Homo sapiens: one gene and its partners. The protein of the gene in region 1 purifies or fractionates together with the protein of each later gene. This does not show direct contact. Each region holds a gene or a part of one and is shown in the gene's direction. Other genes may lie near its edges.

Region 1 (3,500 bases):
GGGTCCCCTGGGGCCCAGCGGTGGGGCCCAACAAGGCAGGCCTGGCGTCCGGCTGGGCTAGGGGCCCCGCCCAAGACAGGTACCCACTTCTTCTCCACAAGGACCTCGGTGCCTGCCAAGGCCGGGGGCCTGGACCTCCCCTCACAGGACACGGCTGGGGTGAGTCTAGCGTCTGTGCCAGCATCTGCGCCGAGGACCCCAGGGCTTCTGGCCAGGCAGTGATGGCCCCAGCCCCCGCCCAGCCTTGAGCACTCTTGGCATTAAGGGCACCTGGGCCAAGGGGACCAAGGTCCACCCCGACCTGTTGGCTGAACAGACAGGCAGCCACCCAGCACAAGGAGGACCCCTGCGAAGGTCCACACAGCTCACCCCTTGGACCCCTGCGAAGGTCCAAGGTGCTCACCAACACCACACAGATGCTCACACACGGGGACACATGTGCTGTCACCTGTGCGCACACATCACACACGTGCATCACATGTTCACACATGCACACAGCACATGCGCAAACCGTGCACACACCACCACACATGTATGTACACTCACATGCACGCAATATGTGCACACACACAGCGCACCCCACCTGTGTGCACACGACATACATGCACACACACCTATGTGCACACACTCACACGGGAACGACACCTGTGTGTCCACCACACAGAGGATCTTCAGGCAGTGGCCAGGTGGACGGGGTTGGGAGGTGGCGTTCCGACAGAGGCAGCCTGGATGCTGCCTGAGCAGTGGACAGGATCCTGGGACGAGGAGGAGCAGGGCCGGTAGGGAGAACGGCCACGTCCCTGCCCTACCCCTGCATAGGCCCCCCAGCCACCCCCAGCTCCCCACGCTCTCCTGCAGGCCCTGGAGTGAGGATCAGATCGGGGCAGGATCCCTGCAGGGCCCATGCTCCCAAGCTCAGGGTGGGGACCAGGCTGAGGGTGCAGCGGCGGTGGCTCTAGGGTGGGGACAGTGGCGGGGTCATGGGACCGCCCTGACCACAGCCCCCGTCTGTCCTAGTGTCCGCAGCGGCTACCTCTATGTGACCCTCATCTACAACGCCTCCGTCAGCCTCGCCCTCTACGCCCTGTTCCTCTTCTACTTCACCACCAGGGAGCTCCTGCGGCCCTTCCAGCCCGTCCTCAAGTTCCTCACCATCAAAGCCGTCATCTTCCTGTCGTTCTGGCAAGGTGTGTGGGGCAGGTGGGGCAGGGGTGCTACCGAGGTGGGGGCTGCAGTCCAGTGAGCCTGGGGTCACCTCACACCCCTTTCCCCAGCCCCCACGTGCTTCAGTTTCTCCAGCTGCAGCACAGGTCAGCTGGAAGCCAGGGTAGAACCTGCGGGCATGAGGGAGTGGAGAGGTCCCGCCAGCACGGGGGAGTGGGGAGGTCCCGCCAGCAGGTGGAGAGAGGTCGCACAGAGGCCACACCAGGTGTTTCCTGAATCCTGGCCCCCACTGGGCCCTGGGCCAGGCCAGGGCACTGACAGCCCACTTTGGCAGAGGAGGATGGCCACCAGACAGGGCACGGGCCCAGGATCTGGGGCTGGAGTGGCAGGGCGGGCCCGGGAGAGCTCCTGAGCACCTGCTGTGCCGAGACCCCCGACTTTGGAGGCGCCCTGCCCCCCTGAACCTCAGTCTCCTGGGGTGGGACGAGACTACACGGACGGGGTCACAGCACCCGTCAGAGGAGCCGCTGCGGGGTCTGGGGCCTCTTCCTCCCCTGCAGACCCCGTCTGGGGCTGGGGCTGAGCGGCCGTGGCGTCCGCAGGGCTGCTGCTGGCCATCCTGGAGCGGTGCGGGGTCATCCCGGAGGTGGAGACCAGCGGCGGGAACAAGCTGGGGGCTGGCACGCTGGCCGCCGGCTACCAGAACTTCATCATCTGCGTGGAGATGCTGTTCGCCTCCGTGGCCCTGCGTTATGCCTTCCCCTGCCAGGTGTACGCAGAGAAGAAGGAGAATTCACCAGGTACACCCTGCCTTCCAGCTGGGGCACCCGGAGCGCACAGCCCTGCCCCGGGCACCGTGTCTGTGTCCGTGCCATTCTCGAGGCCCAGGAATGCCAGCTCGCTGGGCAGGGAGACGGGCAAAGGGCATCCGGCTCCGGACAGGCACCTGGGCTGTGTGGGGTCCAGGCGGTCCCGGACCCCAATGGTGATGGGGGATGGGTGTCCCCTGCCAGGCACACCCCCTATTAGGGCGGAGACAGCCTGTGGCCTGCCGGCTTCTCATCAGTCACTGTGGAGAGACCAGGGTGCCCACCCGAGGCCAGCCAAAGGCGTACTCCGCTGCTTGGAGCCCCTCGGAAGCTCTAGGGGACGTGGTCCTTGTCAGGGGTCTGGCCAGGGACGGGCCCGGTGCTGGGTGGAGCAAGCTGGGCTGGGGTCCAGGGGTCTGGGGCCACCCTCTGCTGGCCGAGGCCAGACCTGGACATGCAGGAGCTACAGCCCTGGGCATCCTGGGAGGGGACTTGTCCGGGGAGCTGGAGTGCAGGGGGGATGGTGGGGCTCATACACTGCCCTCCCCCAGCCCCCCCGGCACCCATGCAGAGCATCTCCAGCGGCATCAGGGAGACAGTGAGCCCCCAGGACATCGTGCAGGACGCCATCCACAACTTCTCCCCCGCCTACCAGCACTACACGCAGCAGGCCACGCACGAGGCGCCCAGGCCCGGCACCCACCCCAGCGGCGGCTCCGGCGGGAGCAGGAAGAGCCGGAGCCTGGAGAAGCGGATGCTGATCCCCTCGGAGGACCTGTAGGGGGGCCTGGGCTGCCAGTGCTGTAGGGACCCAGGCTGCCCAGGCCTCTGGGGAAGAACAGGGTCCCCCCACCCACCAACTCCTGCCAAAGGTGGGGCCTCTCCTGAGAGCCCACCTGTGAGGCCCTCGGAGCCCACTTCCCATCCTCCCTCCAGCCAGGGGGTCAGGGCACCTGATGGCCCTGGCAGGCACCCAGGTGGGCCCGCCACCGCAGGAGAGGGCACCTGAGCCAATCGGAAGAGCCTGGGGACCCCCTGGGATCACCCAGCCATCAGCCCCAGGAGCCACTGTGGGGCGGAGAGTGAGTGTGGCTGCGGGGCCTTGGCTGCACGGACCCCATGGGAGCTGTGAGTGGGTCAGACTCCCTGGTTCAGGAGACAGACAGCGGACGGATCCCAGGCTGGGCAGCTGGAGGGAGGGGCGCCGGGGCGCTGGGCAGCCGGGCTCTGACACAGTCAGCAGCTCCGGGCGCCGCAGGCCGGCGGGGTCCACACAGGCTGGCCGGGGCTGGGCCTCCTTGGAGCCTGCTACGGCCCTCGTGGGCACGTGGAGAAGGGCCCACGTGTCTCCACACGCCAGCCACAGGGGAGCCCTGGCCAGGCGCCCAGCCAGGGGAGCGTGTGCCTGGGATGGGTCACAGAACCAGCGGGCACCTGTGAGGCTGGCCAGCACCGTGGGGCTGTGGGAATCGCTCTTATTTATATTTAAACACCTTGGATTTTCTACCGGGTCTTGGCTTCTGTTCC
Region 2 (3,500 bases), on another chromosome or scaffold:
GAGAGTTGCAGCCAGCACGTGACCAGCAGAGCTGGGACCGGTGGTCCAGCATGTTTCTCTGTGGCGTGAATTGGGGCCCACTGGGGAGTCTGGACCCTGTTCCTGGACTGGTGGGAGTTCGGATGGGGGTGTCAGGGAAGGTGAGCGCTCCTCAGGGTCAGCTGTGTGGCTTTCTGCTCTCAGAGCCTCCTTCCCTGCCTCCCTGAGGGAGAGAGGCCGCTGGTTACCACTTTCCAACCTGGAGCAGGTGACTTCATCTCTCTGTGCCTCAGTTTTCTTGGCTTGAAATTGGGGATAGTAATGGGAGGTTGTTGTGAGGCTTTGGTCAGACAAAGCACAGCGTACTTCGTCCAGAGTTGGGCAGCTGTTAAGTGCTTTCAGCTGCTGTTAGCTGCTGCTTCCCACGGAGGGAGGAAACTGAGGCCGGGAGAGTGAAGTGACCTGTCTGAAGCTCCCTCCCACTGGGGAAATGGGGGAGCGGTTTCCAGCACGCGTGGGGAGGAGGGGCCCAACCCTGGCAGCCGACATAGGGTAGGCTCCAATGTCCCTCGTGGACGAGGGCTCAGGAGAACCTCACAAAAAGCTGTGCCCACTTCTGGGAATGGCTGGCTCTCGGGGGCCTTGGGTTCTCATCTGTCCTCTGCTGTTGTGTTGGGTAGTTTCAGTTTTCCCATCAGTGTAATGGGGCTGTTGGACCTGATCACCTCTGATGCCCTTCACCCCTCCCTGGGCCTCAGTTTCCTCATCTGTGGAGTGGGAGAATGGGCCTGGCCCGTGGGTCTCTGGGATGTTGGCCAGCGCTCACTCTGAGCCTCCGCCCGCTCTGGGCTGCTCCGTGCTCGTGTTGGTCCCGGGCCATGGATGGCGTAGGTGGTGTTTTGGGCCCCTGGGCAACCGGGGGAGCCAGCTCCTCTGGTCATTTCCCCACCCCCGACCCCTGTAGAGTGCGGCGGAAAGAACTTCCACTTCGTGCACCGCTCGGCCGACGTGGAGAGCGTGGTGAGCGGGACCCTCCGCTCAGCCTTCGAGTACGGTGGCCAGAAGTGTTCCGCGTGCTCGCGTCTCTACGTGCCGCACTCGCTGTGGCCGCAGATCAAAGGGCGGCTGCTGGAGGAGCACAGTCGGATCAAAGTGGGCGACGTGAGTGGCACCGTCACCCCCGCCGCGGCCCAGCGGGGGGCTGATGGGATTGGGTCCCTGGGAGGCTCCTCTGCAGCCGGGGCTGGGGTGTGCGGGGAGGGGTCTCCCTTGGTCTCGGCCTGCAGTGACTCGTCTCTTCTGGCGCCTCCCTTGCCTCCAGCCTGCAGAGGATTTTGGGACCTTCTTCTCTGCAGTGATTGATGCCAAGGTACGGGGTGGGAAGTGGGCGTTCCTGGGTGGGGGCAAGCCCTGGAGTGGGTGGAAGAGGGAGGAAGAGATACAGGGTACCCTGACCCAGGGCATGACCCAGCCCCACTGCTTTGATCAAGGCAGCTCAGCAGCCACACACGCACCTCCAGCTTCAGAAAGGGCAGAATCAGCCGTAGCCAGACAAGAGCTCATCTTGCGGCCACCCTGGAACCAGGCTCAGCGAGCTCCTAATAGCATTTGCATGAGTGCATGTACACGTGTGTTTGTGAATGTGTTCATATAGGGCTCCGTGTGGCTCCACATGTAGGTCTTTCCATATAAACACGTACATATCCATTTGCACATAAGCACACACACGCATATGTCGATAAGTCCACCCACACGCATGTACATGGAGAAGGCATGCAGATCCCTACATGCTTAGACATGTGACCATGCATATGCCTATATATGCATTGATTGATGTGTGTCTGTGTTTATATGCGAGTGCACCTGTAGTACTAACACACGTACACTTGTGTGTGTACACACACACACACACACAGTGTTCATGTCTGTCCTTGTCTCTGCTGTGGCTCAGCCAGACCCTGGCTTTTGCCCTTGGCGTCCCCTACCCCTGCCCCTGTTTCAGGAGTTGGGCCCTTCAGGTGCAGGTGTTTCGGGGTGAGTGTGTTGTGGGGGCTGCCGCAGGGATGCCTTCCCAGCCTCTTAGACCTCCCTCCTCCCTGCCCACCCCAGTCCTTTGCCCGTATCAAGAAGTGGCTGGAGCACGCACGCTCCTCACCCAGCCTCACCATCCTGGCCGGGGGCAAGTGTGATGACTCCGTGGGCTACTTTGTGGAGCCCTGCATCGTGGAGAGCAAGGACCCTCAGGAGCCCATCATGAAGGAGGTGACTGGGGTGGGCAGCCTGGGGTCCAGAGGAGGACAATCCCACCGGAGCACAGCACACACACAGTTCTCCTGGAGACATTCTCCCATTTCACAGATGAGGCCCTAAAGGGAGACCCTAAAAGGGAATGCCTCCGACCGGGAGAGAGTAGAGCCAGGTTTTGAGCTCAGGCTGCCTAACTCCAAATCCGGGGCTGTGTCCTTGACCCTGGCTGGGGTCTGAGCATTTCCAGTGCCCTCAGCAACCACGTCCACTGCAGCCATCATAATGGCTGACACTGATAGACTTTTACTGTGGGGCCAGCTGTGGCTGAGCACTTGGCTGAGATGACGTGGGTGTTACTGTTCCCATTTTACAGATGAGAAACTGAGGTCAAGGCACTTGCCCAAGTTGGTAGTGCAGGGCTGGAGTGTGCCTGAGAAGATCTTCCCCCCAGCCCCTTGGTGGCAGAGGGAACCATGAACCCTTCTGGAGGGAATGGTATCTCTGGGCAACTCTCATGCCAGCTGCTGCTGGAAGCCTCTGGGACCTGGACCCTTAGTTCTCCGGGTGTGGGTTTGGCAGGGAGAGCCAGAAAATGTTTGCATCTTTTGCCGGCTTGTGGTGGGATGGACAGGACAGGGAGCTGGGCACGTTGCTGTCCTGGAGGGAACCCAGGAGGAGGCGACACCTGACCCTTCTTGCAGACACTGAAGTGTAAACTGAGGCCCAGGGACTGGGGAGAGGGTGAGCCAGAGCAGGGGCACTGGGAGGGCTCAGGGCCCTGGTCCCTGGTCCCGTGGAGGGTCTGACGCCGGGGCCTCTCTCCTAGGAGATCTTCGGGCCTGTACTGTCTGTGTACGTCTACCCGGATGACAAGTACAAGGAGACGCTGCAGCTGGTTGACAGCACCACCAGCTATGGCCTCACGGGGGCAGTGTTCTCCCAGGATAAGTGAGTGGCCAGGCCGCAGCCCTGGTGCTGTGCTCCGGGTGTCCTGTCCGTGTCCCCATCCCCACCTCCTGGACGTGGTTCCCAGTAATAATGCTGCCCCTACCTTCTCTCTGTCCCCTCCCCTCAGCCCAGACAGGCAGCCAGGGCTCGCCACATGGGCCCACAGCAGCAGGCTCTTTGTTGCCGGTACTGGTGGTGCCGGTGCCAGGGTGCCACTGGGGACCAGTGGATCTGAACCTCTAGGGGCAGGGCTAGGAATTGGTGTCTTCGACTGGCTCTGCGGGATCTGGTGTTGCCCCACTGAGTGAGGTGATTGTCCCATGCTA
Region 3 (3,500 bases), on another chromosome or scaffold:
GCTCCGCGGTGCTGCTGTCTCCCGCACTCTGGTCGCCTGTGTCTTTGCTTTCCCGTCTGTGGGTCAGCCTAGATCACCCCCGTTGACTGTGTCTGACTTTTTTCCTCTTTTCTGCTGCGTCTTGTTTGTTATTAGGTCTATTGAATGAATTCATTTTGGATCTTGTGTTTTTCAGTTTTATGATTTTTTGCAGTTCCACTTCTCTTTGCAATTCTCCATCTTCCCCACGTTGTTCATCTTTTCTTTGAAATTCCTTAATCTGCTTATTGCAGTGATTTGAAGGGCCTTGTCTGGTGATTCGGACGTTTGGATTTCCTGAGACTTCTTCCCTTCAGTTGGGGATCACATCTTTGTGTCCTTACATGCTTTGTGACTTTGAAGGGTTCCAGTCTTTGTCTTTGAAAGAATGATATTATTTCTTCCCCGGAGATTCCTGCCTTTCTCTGCCAGGCAGCTGCGGTGAGGCACTCGTCACTGCAGTCCAGTGAGGAGATGAGATGGGCTGGGGCTGGACTGTGGCATCGGCATCCGTCGACCCCAGTTTCAACGCCGTGTGGGCGAGATCTGTCCTGTGTGTCCTGGGCCTCCCTTAGGTGCTGACCCCACAGCACGAAGAGTGCCCTCCTCCCTCCGCCACACCCTTCGGTGCTCCGTGTGGAACACCGCGGGTAGAGAGGGCCATGGAAGGAATGCGGCTCACCAGCTCTTCCTGAAGCTTTATGGGCGACGCGAGAACCCGCTAACGAGTGAGGAACTTAAAACGTATTTATATGTAAGCAAGAAATGTTTATTATGGAGTAAAATATAAAATTCACATGACTCTTTTAAATAAAAGACTTCACCCGTTCGCTAGTCACTGCATGCCTGTCCATACTGGGAAGCATGCTGACTTCAGGTCTGCGGGCAGCCAGGCCCTCCTGCCAGCTTCCCCAAGGTGTACATCCGCCCTCTCTGTGTAGCTGGAAGAGCCTGACCACTCACGTCTCTCCAGGCCACAGATCCCGAAGCCCTTTTCTAGCTCTGTTCACGATTGCTCTTCCCCTCACAGGCCAGACGCAGCTGTCCCGCGCAACATGGCTTCTGTGGGAAGGGGTCAGAGTTTGAGGCACCCCTTTTAGAAGGGAGGCGCTGCAGACTCTTGAATGTGAACCATGAGAACGCTGTGCCTGGAGCCAGGAGCCTCCGCCACGGGCCCCAGTGCCTGCTCATCTTCCTACCGAGTGCTTCCTTTCCTTCGTAGGTTTGGGAAAAGTTCTTAAGTTCTGAAACGCCGCGGATCAATGTCTTTATGGCAGTGCCTACAATATACACCAAGCTGATGGAGTACTACGACAGGCATTTTACCCAGCCGCACGCCCAGGATTTCTTGCGTGCAGTTTGTGAAGAAAAAATTAGGTAAGTGAAAAGAGCCCACTTTCTCGTTCAGAAAGTCTTAAAGATCAACAGATACGACTTATTTCTAATAAATCACTCCTACTAAGTTCTGGGAAGCAGTGCTTTCCATTTCCTTTCAATGTTCCCTCTCTCTCTACCCGTCTCCGTCTCTACCTCTCTAACTGTCTCTCTCTCTCTCTACCCGTCTGTATGTATATCTGTAATCTCTTCCACGTCGATAGCTGCCTGGATTCTGTATCGCTCTCTCTGTCACACTCTGTCTCTCTATCTCTCTCTGTCTCTCTTTGTCTCTCTCTCTCCATCTCTCCATCTATCTGTCTTCTCTGTCTCTCTTGTCAGACTCTCCATCTCTGTCTTCTCTCTGTCTCTCTCCATCGCTCTTCATCTGTCTCTCCGTCTTCTCTTTCTCTATCTCTCCTGTCTCTCCATCTGTCTCTATCTCTCCATCTGTCTTTGTCTCCGTCTGTCTGTCTGCTCTCTCTCCTGTCCGTCTCTCTCTCTCTCTGTCATGGCGTCTGAAGGACAAGGGTGAGGACAGTGAGCTGACCCGCTTGCTCCTGCTTCATCTGCCCACATGTCCCACGGCGCCTGCCTCTCCTATGCAGTCTCTCTGCCTTCGTGGGCAGCCCTGTGAGGCCTCCTGCCTGGGGCACGTTCTGCTGCTTTTCCTCTCAGCCCCGCTCCTCCCCTCCCAGCTCCCTGGATAAACCCCTCCCTCCCAGGACAAGCTGGTCTTTTGGGCCACCCAGGGGCGTGTTTGCTCTGCACTCTCCCATGAACCTGCAGGCGTGGGAACGTTTCTTTTCCCTCGTGGCTGTTGAGGTGTGGTTCACTAACTGGAAACGCACACGTGTGGCTCAGTGAGTCTTCACACGCATCACAGGCCCGCACCTCCAGCAGAGTCGTGGGTGGGGTATTTTTTCTTTTTGTGAGAGGGAGGGGTGGCGTGGAGGGTGCACTGCAGGAACTGAAGGCTCCACTGCCATCCAGTTTCCAGTGGGATGTGTGTGTCTGTGGCTGCCGCGCGCTCCTCCCAGTCCCCAGGAAGTGCACAGGGAAGCGGCACCTTTGTTCCTGGAGAGAATTCCGGGTTGTCCAAGGCACATGTCTGAACCGCTTCGCTCTCTTTGCCGTTCCCTTGCCCCTTTTCTGTGAGGCCACCGGAGCCCATGGTTTTGCTGCTGCTACTGCTGGGATACCCTGGGGCTGGGCAGGCCCCAAGCTGAGCAGGGTGAGCACAACGTTTTACCAAATCTAAGGAACCAAGGGCAAGAACGAGGTCAGTGAAGGAGAGGATCAGGTGATTTCTGGGGTGACAGAGGCAATGAGACCTCGGCCATCTGGATCTCCCAGCGGGGGTCCTGTCAGTGGTGCCTCCTCGTAAAGCAGGGGCAGCAGCAGGGACCACTCCGCTCAGACCGCAAACAAAAGCGCCTTCCCTACTGCCCGTGAGGCTGCGGGAAATGCTGTGTGAGAGCGCGGGGACTCGGAGTTCTCAGGGCCCGTGTTCTCCTGCCAAGCCTGAGCTGACCCTGTGGGCCAAGATGGCTGCAGTTCTGCGGGTGGTTCTGAGCCCCTTGGGTGTGCCCGGCCCCACCCCTTGGGTGCCGCGGCCATTCACCCATGTCCGCGTTCTGCTGCAGAGCCTGCAAGCTGAGCCGGCTGTAGTCCCCGGATGTGCCTGGCCGCAGCCTGCAGCGCCGTGGCTGTTCACCCGTGATCAGCTCCGTGGTCGGCAGCTGCACGGTCACTGCTGTTCTTGAGCGTGGTTGTGAACAGCGCAGGAACTTTGCAGGGGACACCGCGGACCCTAAGCACATTGTTTACCCTCATTAGCTGTTGGACCTGCTTCCTTCTAAAATACACCCAACAGATCGTTTTCAAAAAACAAAGTCACGCCGTAGCGCAGACTGCAGCGTTGGTCCCGGGTGTCGCACAGTGGTGCTGTACCCACGGCCTGGGGCTCCTGCACTCGTGAAGGAGCTGCCACTTTTGCAAGCAAGGGCCGCCTCCTGAGGGGCTAAACCTGCCACCTTTGCACGCGAGAGCCACGTCCCAAGGGGCTAAACCTGCCTTTGGTTGTGCCGCGTAGGCTGATGGTCTCA
Region 4 (3,500 bases), on another chromosome or scaffold:
GCAACTCAGGCCGGGCACGGTGACTCACGCCTGTAATCCCAGCACTTTGGGAGGCTGAGATGGGAGGATTGCTTGAGGCCAGGAGCTCAAGACGAGCATGGTCAACATAGGGAGACCCCATCTCTAAAAATTTTTTTTAAAACACAAGCAAGCTAACAATTTTAAAACTCAAAAGAGAAATAGCTAGGCCTCAGTGTTCCTAGCCAGCCCCATGGAATCAAGAGAGTGCAGCTGATCAATGTACATCAAAAAGCCAGGCCCTACCTGGGACTGGCACAGCATGGGGACAGCATGCAGGAGGTGCATGGGACAAATGGCACCTGGGTTTGGGCTTGAGAGGCATAGTGAAAAGACCCACTAGCAGTCACTTTCCATTTTCTGTTTCTGACTCCAAGCAAGCAGAGCAGCAGTTCTTCTTCCTGGGTGGGACAGGTTAAGAAGACCAGTAAAGGGTCTCTCCCTCGCCACTTGTAGCTACACTATCTTTCCTGTTCACATTCAGGTGTGTCTTCCTCATGAGGACTGAGATGAAGAGGGGTCAGACTAAAGCACTGTTTGCACGGGATTTTTTTAAATAGAATTTGTTATAGCGATATCAGTAAAGCAAGAGTTATGCCAAATGCTCATAGTAGGAGTTTACTTCGACCTCTTTTTTTTTCCCCACTCAATACTGCCACCAGTTAAGACTTAGACTTCTCAGGGAAATCCATTTGCTCTGTTAAGGAAATTAATAGTAAATAGAAATATGTTAGCTTATTTTAATAGATCAATGTTAGTGTCAAGGTTTGTCTGCAAGCAGTGAATGAATAATTATAAATAGCTTTCCTAAAAAGAATTGTTCTGCCTTTGTGTGTGTACTTGGAAACATAAAGTCACATTTTAAAAAAATTTATTTTCACGAAACAGACAACATTTTTTTTCTCAGAAAGGAAAATGAGATGATAGCTTTGCTATGCTTAGAAATCCTAAAGCTACCTTTCTGGTGGGAATATAAATTGGTTAACCTCTAAGGAGGCAGTCTGGCAGTATATAATTGCAAGTGCATATACCTTTTGATCATTAATAAAATTTGTTTCTATAATTTCATTTCCTTAGAGAAAAGGTAAGATAAGAGGGAAACAGCAAAGACTCCCAAGTCTTTGGGATTATTGTGTACTACATTTGGAAATTAAGTTTTCATTTCTTAAGTAAGTTATTGAAAGAGGGAAGTCCTGGCCGGGCACGGTGGCTCACGCCTGTAATCCCAGCATTTTGAGAAGCCGAAGCGGGCAGATCACGATGCCAAGAGATCGAGACCATCCTGGCCGACATGGTGAAACCCCATCTCTACTAAAAATACAAAAAATTAGTTGGGCGTGGTGGCTCCCGCCTGTAGTCCCAGCTACTTGAGAGGCTGAGGCAAGAGAATCACTTGAACCTGGGAGGCAGAGGTTGCAGTGAGCTGAGATCGCGCCACTGCACTCCAGCCTGGCAACAGAGCAAGACTCTGTCTCAAAAAAAAAGAGTGAAGTCCTAAATCAGTGGGTTAATCCATCTGTTCTTCCAGGACAGATGATATTGAATAATGAAATGTTTGTCAAGCAGAGAGAGGACTGAGGATAATTCAGTCAAAACAAACATTTGGAGCAAAAATTTTGAGGTGTGAAAGAGCCTGGCCTGTTCCCCAGGAAAGAGGTCAAATCTGGCTAAAGCAGTGAGTCCAGGGGAAGAGCTAAGGCAGTTGAGAAGTAGGAGGGGTAGCTTTGTGTGACAGGTAAAGAAGATGTCATTTTCTGAGCCAGTGTGCATCAAACTTCACTACCAGATGAATGCAGAATAGAATTATGTACACTCTGCAAAGCAGCGGGGGAGGAGAGTTAGTCTCAAGCCTCACTTGTTTTTCCACTTCTTTGTTTTATCTTTGACCTGTGCAAATTTTACATTCTATTCCTGAGTGAATGTTTGGTATGACATGAAAGAGATATTTCAAATTACCTAACATTTTATAAATGCAATGCTATTCATACATACTGCTTTGAACCCTGGGGCTATGGCTGTAGGCGGTAAAGAGCCTGTGAAGTATTTTCAGCAAGGAAAGTCATGTCATTATATTGCCGTACTACAGACGGGTGGAGTGAAGGGGAAAAACTGGAAGGAGGGAACAGCTTTTGCCAGGAGCTCAATACAACTTACCTCAGTGACCTGTGGATGGGTAGACAATGAGGAAATAGAAGCCCACAAGGACTGCACTGCTAGTACCTTATGAAGGCAGGAATTTACTCCTGGACTTTCTGACCTTAAGGCCTGTACTCTGTCCATATGCTTCCCTGCCTCCAGGAGGCAGAACCAGAAGGCTCTTGCCATAATCCAGGTAAGAAGTAAAGAGGACCCGACCAGGGCAGAGGTGAGAGGAGAGGCAAGGAGAGAACATTCTAGAGAGATGAAAGAGAATTGAGTGACTTCCCAGATATAGTAGGGAGAAGGAAAAACAAGGAAAATTCCAGGTCCGTGGCTTGGATGACTGGATGGATGATGTTCATCATTAACCGACTTAGGATACTTCAGAGGAAGAGCAGGTTTAAGGTGGAGATGGGAAAAGAATGGTGTAGATCCTCTGATTGCATAAGAAAACAAGACAGCAGAAGCAAAGGCATGGCTTGTAATGCCCAAGATAGACATTATGGGTGGGCCTCAGAGCCCCCGAAGACTGCATTGTAGCAGCCAAAACAGCAAAGAGCTCATCAGGGCTTGGGGACTGTCTTTTAGGTTTGTTTGAAGAGACTGTACCAGAGGGCCAGGGAGGAGGAGAAAGGAATTGAGCTGGCCTATCTAGAGCAGCTGCATGGCCAACACGAAGCCTGGCTTATTCACAAGACAACGAAGTAAGTGGGGAGAAAAGAATGTATCAGAGACAGAGACCTGGCTCCCAACAGCCAGTTGTTAAAAACAAGTTCAGCATGCAGCCCCCTGTAGGAAGGTTCAGAATATACTGGAAATGGTTGGAAATGTCAAGCATTTTCCAACTCAGAAGTTTAATATTGCTGGACACCGTGGCTCACGCCTGTAATCCCAGCACTTTGGGAGGCTGAGGCAGTCACCTGAGGTCAGGATTCAAGACCAGCCTGGCCAACATGGTGAAACCCTGTCTCTACTAAAAATAGAAAAATTAGCCAGGTGTGGTGTCAGGCGCCTGTAATACCAGCTACTCGGGAGGCTGAGGCAGGAGAATCGCTTGAACCTGGGAGGCAAAGATTGCGGTGAGCCGAGATCGCACCACTGTACTCCAGCCTGGGCGACAGAGTGAGATGCCCAGAAGAAGTTTAATATTGAATATAATCTTTACATTCCAAGGGCCTTTTTATTAGATTGTATTTCTCCAGCTTTTTCTTTGTTTCTTAACATTTCCCTAGACTGAACATTGTGATTGATGGTGATAGTTGGCTCAGCATGAAGGGCTGAAAATGTTAGAGAAATTGTCAGTATTACTAAGTTGGCATTCCTGGTTTCTGCCTGTCCTCCCT

What was found. Proteins that work in one complex are often made in the same cells at the same time.
Region 2: the proteins of TMEM184A (region 1) and ALDH4A1 purify together in Homo sapiens (affinity purification with mass spectrometry; 2 studies listed by BioGRID and IntAct, with this or other methods). This does not show direct contact.
Region 3: the proteins of TMEM184A (region 1) and ACSF3 purify together in Homo sapiens (affinity purification with mass spectrometry; 2 studies listed by BioGRID and IntAct, with this or other methods). This does not show direct contact.
Region 4: the proteins of TMEM184A (region 1) and DGUOK purify together in Homo sapiens (affinity purification with mass spectrometry; 2 studies listed by BioGRID and IntAct, with this or other methods). This does not show direct contact.

Annotation. Positions count from the first base shown.
Region 1 is NC_000007.14:1,546,206-1,549,705, reverse strand, and holds part of TMEM184A (transmembrane protein 184A), read left to right. Parts: intron 1-1,017; coding exon 1,018-1,187; intron 1,188-1,766; coding exon 1,767-1,964; intron 1,965-2,524; coding exon 2,525-2,754; 3' UTR 2,755-3,500. UniProt on the Homo sapiens protein: Acts as a heparin receptor in vascular cells. May be involved in vesicle transport in exocrine cells and Sertoli cells.
Region 2 is NC_000001.11:18,875,056-18,878,555, reverse strand, and holds part of ALDH4A1 (delta-1-pyrroline-5-carboxylate dehydrogenase, mitochondrial isoform a precursor), read left to right. Parts: intron 1-943; coding exon 944-1,140; intron 1,141-1,300; coding exon 1,301-1,348; intron 1,349-2,088; coding exon 2,089-2,241; intron 2,242-3,052; coding exon 3,053-3,174; intron 3,175-3,500. UniProt on the Homo sapiens protein: Irreversible conversion of delta-1-pyrroline-5-carboxylate (P5C), derived either from proline or ornithine, to glutamate. This is a necessary step in the pathway interconnecting the urea and tricarboxylic acid cycles.
Region 3 is NC_000016.10:89,110,852-89,114,351, forward strand, and holds part of ACSF3 (malonate--CoA ligase ACSF3, mitochondrial isoform 1 precursor), read left to right. Parts: intron 1-1,240; coding exon 1,241-1,395; intron 1,396-3,487; coding exon 3,488-3,500. UniProt on the Homo sapiens protein: Catalyzes the initial reaction in intramitochondrial fatty acid synthesis, by activating malonate and methylmalonate, but not acetate, into their respective CoA thioester. May have some preference toward very-long-chain substrates.
Region 4 is NC_000002.12:73,954,380-73,957,879, forward strand, and holds part of DGUOK (deoxyguanosine kinase, mitochondrial isoform a precursor), read left to right. Parts: intron 1-2,745; coding exon 2,746-2,861; intron 2,862-3,500.